2 linked regions of the Homo sapiens genome follow. The protein of the gene in region 2 purifies or fractionates together with the protein of the main gene of each other region. This does not show direct contact. Each region holds a gene or a part of one and is shown on either strand. Other genes may lie near its edges.

What was found.
Region 1: the proteins of MAGEB1 (region 2) and EID2 purify together in Homo sapiens (affinity purification with western blotting, with the first as the bait; one study listed by BioGRID). This does not show direct contact.

What each region holds. Positions count from the first base shown.
Region 1 is NC_000019.10:39,538,207-39,541,544, forward strand, and holds EID2 (EP300-interacting inhibitor of differentiation 2), read right to left. Parts: upstream 1,956-3,338; 5' UTR 1,874-1,955; coding exon 1,163-1,873; 3' UTR 501-1,162; downstream 1-500.
Region 2 is NC_000023.11:30,245,866-30,249,945, forward strand, and holds the start of MAGEB1 (melanoma-associated antigen B1), read left to right. Parts: upstream 1-1,280; 5' UTR 1,281-1,391; intron 1,392-1,524; exon of another isoform or gene 1,525-1,607; intron 1,608-4,080.

The DNA.
Region 1 (3,338 bases), on a different chromosome or scaffold from region 2:
GATCTATTACAGCATCAAATATAAGATGCACCCACATTTCAGAGATGTTCAAATATGAAGTGAATTTTGAATTGAAGCAATACTATATTTGTGCACATGCCACATGATATACAAGATGAACTACTCTAGCAATTGTACAAGATGAACTACTCTAGCAATTTTTTATTCTGCCCAAAGAAAGAGATGGGAAACAACCTAAATGTCCGTCAATATATCCCTGGTTAAGTAAATTTGGACATAACCTCAGAATGGAATAAAATGCCACTTTAAAAAATAATGAGGAAATACAGTGGTTTGGAAGGGTCAACATATGTTCTTAATGAGAAAGCAATGTATAAACCAGTAAATATAATATGCCGACTTCTGTGAAGAAATAAAACAAGTAAACCCAGATTTATATGTGCCTGTGTACACGTAAGGAAACTAGAAGGACGGAAAGGAAACTGTGGCTATTAGAGGTCATCGTTGGTACTGGATGGAGGAAAACAAGAATGGAAGGCTTTTCGCTGTATATTTTATATATTTTTTGGCTTGTGAATAGATTTTTTAATACCAAAAAAACTTTAAAAATTAAAAATTGAAAGAAAAAAGTCCAGAAATTTGACGTTCTTGAAAACATGATTTATCACATAATATATACATTTACTTTGCTTGTCACTTGAAATGCCTAAGAAAACACAAAATCAATCTTAAACTAGAAACTTCTATTGAATATGACATGAAGAGAGCACATATTCCGACAATTTCAAGTTCTTTTCATAGCCTTCCAGTCCTAATAACTCAGCGTTAACATCTTATTCTGTTCAGCACTATTTGATAATTTCTTTCATCCTCATGGGCTCTAGTATTGATGTTTCATCAGTCTCAATTTTATAAAACCATCCTTTACTTTGTAATAAAGCAATGCTGAGAGACATTTTCCATAATGCAGGGGGAAAAATGTGGATCAATCACAAACTCAAAGAACGTTACAGTTATAATGCTTTCGACATTTTTTTCTACTTCTGTGATGCTTTTTCAAGATAAGCTTCCCCCTCCCCCTTTTTTTCCCCTCCACCTGTGCACTGTCTTATCGCGATATACTCTTGACTTCTGAAAATCAAGTTGCAGGATTGGTATGACTGGAATGCAGAGGTTCTCTTGAAGTAGTGTCACCACATAACTATTCTCTATTGATAAACTTATCGCAACCAAGTTCTTCTATCAGAGGGTTGATAACTTCAGAGGCAGTCAGAGCTATCGTAAAGGTTAAAATATCGAGGTCCACCCTGTGAGGATTTCGCTGATATTCGGCATCAAACGCTGCTTCCCTTGCTCTGCAGGCTTCCACGAATCGCCTGCGGCGTTCTTCAAGCTCTTGTATTCTGCCGGGAGCAATCGGGTAATTTTCCAGATAGTGGCGGAGAAACTGCTGGTAATTGATGCCTAAAACGCTAAGTGGGTGGCGGAGACGGAGATAGGGCAACGCAGCCAGGCCTCCGTTCCCGTGTCTGGACCTGGGCCTGCCCTCGGGACCCTCTTCGTCCACTGGCTCCCCCAGCAAGCGGGCGACCTCCGCCATCCGGGCTTCCCTGGCCGCCGCCGCCGCCGGGCTTTCCCTGCCCGCCGCGGCTGCCCTGGCCAACGCCGCCGCTGCCACCGGGGCTCCCCTGGCTGCCGCCGCCGGGGCTGCCCTGGCCGCCGCCATCCGACCTTCCCTGGCCGCCGGCACCGGGCCTCCCCTGGCCGCCGCCATCGCGCCTTCCCCGGCCTCCTCAGGCTGTGCCGGGGCCGGCTCCCGCCTCCCGCGGCCTACCTCCGCCTGCGGGACGTCTCTGTCACCATTCGCCGCGCCTGTCTGCGGGACACTGCTGTCTGCGGGCAGCTTGGACATCTCAGACCGTGGGGTCAACTCGGCTGCTCCCAGAGAAACTGGAATAACTGGACAGAGCGATGCCCGGCGGACACCCCAGTGCGCGTGCGTGGGCGCTATGCGCGCTGTAAATGCAGTGTGCGTAACCGGGCGCGAGAGCATAGATTCTTACCGCAAACCCTGGGAGCAGTGCGCATGCGTACTTTCCCGGCGCCCGCCGTTCTCCAGATGCCCCCTCGAGGCCGGGAAGCGCCAACGCATCTGAAACATCCCAACGACGAAGGGCGGGGGACATTTCAACCAGTTTGATGTTTATGAGGAACGCTTACAAGATCGCTTCTTGTAGGCGTTCTCAAGGTTCTGTCCTAGGGTGTTTCTCTTTGTTCTCCAGTGATTATGTGCCACCTCTATTATATATCAAGATATTTTAGATTCATGGTCTTTTCTGGATTTTTAAATTGTTTTTCATTCATTCCTTTGCCTGTCTTCATCCATACGGATCGTCCTAGCTACCAAAGCTTTGTAATTACAGTCTTTTCGTGTTATCTTTAACATTGCATTGACTACCTTGGACATTTGTTTTTCGAATCTTATTTGTGCAATATAACATGCAGAAAAGTAAACAAAACATAAATATACAGCTGAATGATTTATCACAAAGTGAACATCCGTTTAACTACCACACAGTCCAAGAAGTGGAATATTTCCAGCATCCCAGAACCCTTCCTCTTCTTCTTATCACTATCCTTTCCTTTCTACGCAGAAGTAACAACTATGCTGATACTTATGGTAATCACTTTCTTGTTTTTCTTTTCATTTTACCACCTAAGGGTGCATTCCTAATGCTGTAGTTTAGTTTGGTTTGTATTCTGAACTTTATCTATGTGAGAAACACACTCACCTGCGTAATTTTTGTATTTTTAGTAGAGACGAGGTTTCACCATGTTGGCCAGGATGGTCTCGATCTCTTGACCTCGTGATCCGCCTGCCTCGGCCTCCCAAAGTGCTGGGATTACAGGCGTGAGCCACTGCGCCGGCCACTTTCTTCCCTTTTATGGGCTGACCCCGCCTCTACATTCTGTTCCCTTATTGTGACCTTCTAGGTGGATGAGCCCTGCAGTTTGTTATATTTGCAGGCTGGCTGCCAGTACTTAGATTTATCATGCCTCAGAAATGGACCATTTAAAATGTTTTCTCACATACACACTTGTATCTGTTTTTTTGTGCATTATTTTTATGAGATTCATCCATTCACATTTTCTCTTCCTCCCTCCCTCCCTCACTCCCTTCCTTCCTTCCTTCCTTCATTCCTTCTTTCTTTCATCTCATTCTGTTACCCAGACTGGAGTGCAGTGGCACAATCACAGCTCAACGTGGCCTCAACCTTCCGAGCTCAAATAATCCTCCCACTTCAGTCTCCTGAGTACCTGGGACTACAGGTGTACACCACCACACCCAGTTAATTTTTAATTTTTTTGTAGAGACA
Region 2 (4,080 bases):
TGAAGTGAAGGAATAGATCAGCATGTTTTTTTCCCTGAGAGCACAACATCTGTCCTAGGCTCTCCACCTTCCGTTTCAGTTTCCCAACATCACATCACTTCTGGGACAGGGACCTCTTCTCTGCAAGGTTTGCAAAGAGGAAACTGGTCAAATTTTTGCAGGGATGTGACATTTCCCTGGAAGAGTTTGATCAAGAGACAGAAGCCAACATGAGAACCCTCATGAATGAATGGTGGGGAGAAAACCACTCCAAAATGTAAGGGTTCATCCAGACCCTCAGGAGAGTGACCTCAGTTCAGTAGATAGAGGAGTCCCAGGTTCTGATACATGTAAAGGCGAGGAGCATAAATGAAGACTGATGGAAGGACCCAGCCAAAACTGTGGGGTTCTATGGAGTCCTTTCCTTATTATCTGTTTTTGCAGGTTGCAAAAGGACTGTGATCATATGAAGATCATCCAGGAGTACAACTCGAAATTCTCAGAAAACAGGACCTTGATGTGAGAGGAGCAGGTTCAGGTAAACAAAGGGTAAGTTACAGGTTTGCTCACTTGTCAAGGTGAGGACCTGAATGTGGACTAAGGGTAGCTAGCACCCACATGGCCTCACAAAGTCCCCTCTGCTGTCAGCCCTAGGAAGCCTTGGCGGAGATGGCAGGCTGAATTCTGCCTGGAAAGTCTCAGGGAGATGACTGGTTCCGTCTAATTGGGGCAGCCTCAGTTTTACAGAGCGAAGAGGCCGAGACCCTAACAAGAATCAATGTAGGGCTTTTAAGTGTTAAGAGGGGACTCCACCAGCAGATGAGTCCCCACAGAATTCACCCCGTTTTGAGGCATCAGACAGAGCTATCTACCTAAGGTGCCTCTCATTTCCGCCTGGAAGGTCTCATGGAGGATGGGGAGCGTGGGGCCTGAAGGGAGTAGCTTCAGTTCTGCCTGGAGAGGAAACCAGAGTCACGGTGAGGACTCTGAGAGCTGATGAGAAGGCCTCTGCCCAAAACGGGACTTTCACAGAGCCCTGCCGCTGCTGTCAGGCCTGTGAGGCCCAGGCAGGGGTGGCCTGTGTGGCACGCTCAGATTTCCACCTTGGGGGCTGAGAGAGGTGGGGCTATTGTTTGAGGCTGGCGGATTTGGGTCAGCAGGCGGAGTCGTCCCAGACTGCTAGATACTAAGGTGAGGACCCCTAGTGGGGACGTAGGGACCAGCGACGCTAGAACAGTTACGTCCAGAAGCGTACCACCCCTGCCGTCAGCCCGGAGGCCACGGGCTGCCGGATGTGGCTCATCCTGACTTCCGCTTTGAAGGCGAGGACCCCAGCGAGCGTAAGGGCGCAGTGTCCGCCTGGCGGATTTGGGTCAGCAGGCGGAAGTCGTCCCAGGCTGCTAGATACTAAGGTGAGGAACCCTAGTGGGGACGTAGGGACCAGCGACACTAGAACAGTGACGTCCCGTAGCGTCCTGCCTCTGCCGTCAGCCCTCAGAGGCCCTGGGCTGCCGGATGTGGCTCATCCTCATTTCCCTTTTGAAGGCGAGGACCCGAGCGAGCTTAAGGAGTGGGGTGCAGCGTCTGGTCAGCGGAGGGTGAATTCTCAGGACTGGTCGGGAGTCAAGGTGAGGACCCTGAGTGTAAATTGAAGAGACCACCCCCACCCGTAACAAAGAGGTCCCCTCTAAGTCCCGCTTCTGCATTTGGTCCTGGGAGGCCTCAGGTAACCAGATGGGTAGCACCCTGACTGTCTCTTCAGCGACTCAGGGAGACGAAGGCTTTGGCCTAAGCCTTATAGACTCAGGTCAATAGAGGGAGGAGTCCTAAACCCTACTACCCGTAATCCCAGAACTCTGGGAGGCCGAGGCAGGCGGATCACGAGGTCAGGATATCAAGACCATCCTGGCTAACACGGTGAAACCCCGTCTCTACTAAAAATAGAAAAAATTAGCCAGGCGTGGTGGTGGGCTGCTGTAGTCCCAGCTACTCAGGAGGCTGAGGCAGGAGAATGGCGTGAACCCGGGAAGCGGAGCTTACAGTGAGCCGAGATTGCACCACTGCACTCCAGCCTGGGTGACAGAGCGAGACTCAGTCTCAAGAAAAAAAAAAAAAAAAAAAAAAAGTCCCGCTCCTGCTGTCGGCACACGCAGGCCCCAGTCAGCCTTGGTGGGATGTGGCCCACTATGACTGTGAACTTAGGTCCAAGGAATATGAGAACTTTTGTCTACGGGGCATGGTGTTAGGAGCAGTTGATGGGTGGAGTCCCAGAAAGAGTGCTGAGTGGAGGTGGAGACACTGAGTGAGGAAATGGCGGCTACTCTATACACGAGGGAGACAATTGCGCCTGATGCTGTCCCTGGGAGTCCCAGGCCAGAGCTGGCAGGCTCAAGTACTCCCTGGCTTCTGCCTTCATAGTCTTAGAGAGAGGAGGGCCTTGGTTTAAGGCCTCACTGCCCCAGTTCAGTAGAGAGATAGGAGTCATACGCCAAGACAGGTGTCAAGGTACAATTTCTTTATGAGGAATGAGGTAACCGTCTAGTCCAGAACAGGCAGGAACACAGTCTTACCTTGGCGTTCATTCCTTAGAAGCCAGGGTTAGAACTCTCAAGTTGAGATGCCCCTCATTTCCTTCAGGTACTGTTTCAGGTACATAATGGCTTTGGTTTAACATGAAAGCCCTTGTTTAGTACAGGGAGGAGGCCCAGTTCCTAAAAGATGGTGACACTGAGGGAGTATGAGGGGACCCCCTCCAAGAAAGAGGTAACACAGATAGAGCCCTATCCCCACTGAGACCTGGGAGATCCAGGTATGGTGACATGATGAGTCTCACTCACTTCTTCCTAGAGCATCTCAGGGAAGTGGGGAACTTCATCAAAGGGGGCAGCCTTATGTTAGCAGCTAGAGGATTCCTAGGTAATTCCAGGAGTCAAAAAGAAGACCCTGAGAACTGGGGGAACCACTCATCCCATAACAGTGAAAGAAACACGGAATTCCTTCCTGATTTTCATCCTTGGGAGATGATGGACAATTGTAGCCAGATGGGAAAAGTTTCACTTCTTCCTCAGGGAGTTGTCGGGGGGTGCTTTGTATGACTGGATAGGCGTTAGATCAAGACAGAGAAGTCACTGAGGGAGGAATGAGATGAGCATTTACCTAGAGAGTGGGGCTTCACCAAGTTCTACCCCCTCTCAGCTCTGGGAAACCCCAGGCAGAAGTACCCAGATGTGTCATCCCCTCAAGACTAGCCCTGGGTACTCAGAGAGGTGAAGGCTTTTGTATGAGCCTGGAAGAATCAAGTGGGATTAGAGAGGAGCTCAGACTCTGCTTGAGTGAAGACTAAAGAGAACAACGACCCCAGAACAGTGGAGCCCCATAGAGGACGTGGTGACTGGATGTGATTCAGGCTTTCTTTCATCTTGGGACTATGAGGCAATGAGAATCTTAATCTGATGTAAGGGGCCTCAGGTCAGTAGAGAGAGGATTTCCAGGTTGTGCCAGGCCTCATAGAGAGGACTTGAGGGAACTCCCACCTCATCAGTGGGGATCCCTCAGAGTCCCTCTGTATGTCAGCGCTAGGAAGCCCCGAGCATAAATGTCAGAAATGCCCCTAAATTCCTCTTCAGAAGTAACAGGGAAATGAAGGTCTTAGTCAGATGGGTTAGCAGGAGGGGTGGGAGGCATTTTAGGCCCTCCCAGGAGTCAAACTGGAGACCTTGAGTGAGGACCATGAGTGGGGCTACACATCACAGGGCTTCAACCTGCCAGCCACAGCTTTCAGCCTCTGGAGAATATGGGCATTGTGACCAGATACAGCCACCCTCATTTCCTCCATTGGGTCTCAGGCAGATGTAGGCCTTACTATGAGTAAATGTCCTCAGGTGTAGAGAGAACAGAGCCCTAGGCCCTTCTGGGAGTCGAAGTGTGAGTGTGGACTGAAGGCACCATTCCCCCAAGCCCCCAACCCCCACCCCAAATAGAGGAAAAACAACGATGCTAGCCCTGTCTCTGCACTTAGCTCTGAAAGGCCTTGGCCAAGGGTTGCCAGGCTGAGACTTTATTTCTTTGCATCAGGTCTAAGGGAGGTGACAGCTTTGGTCT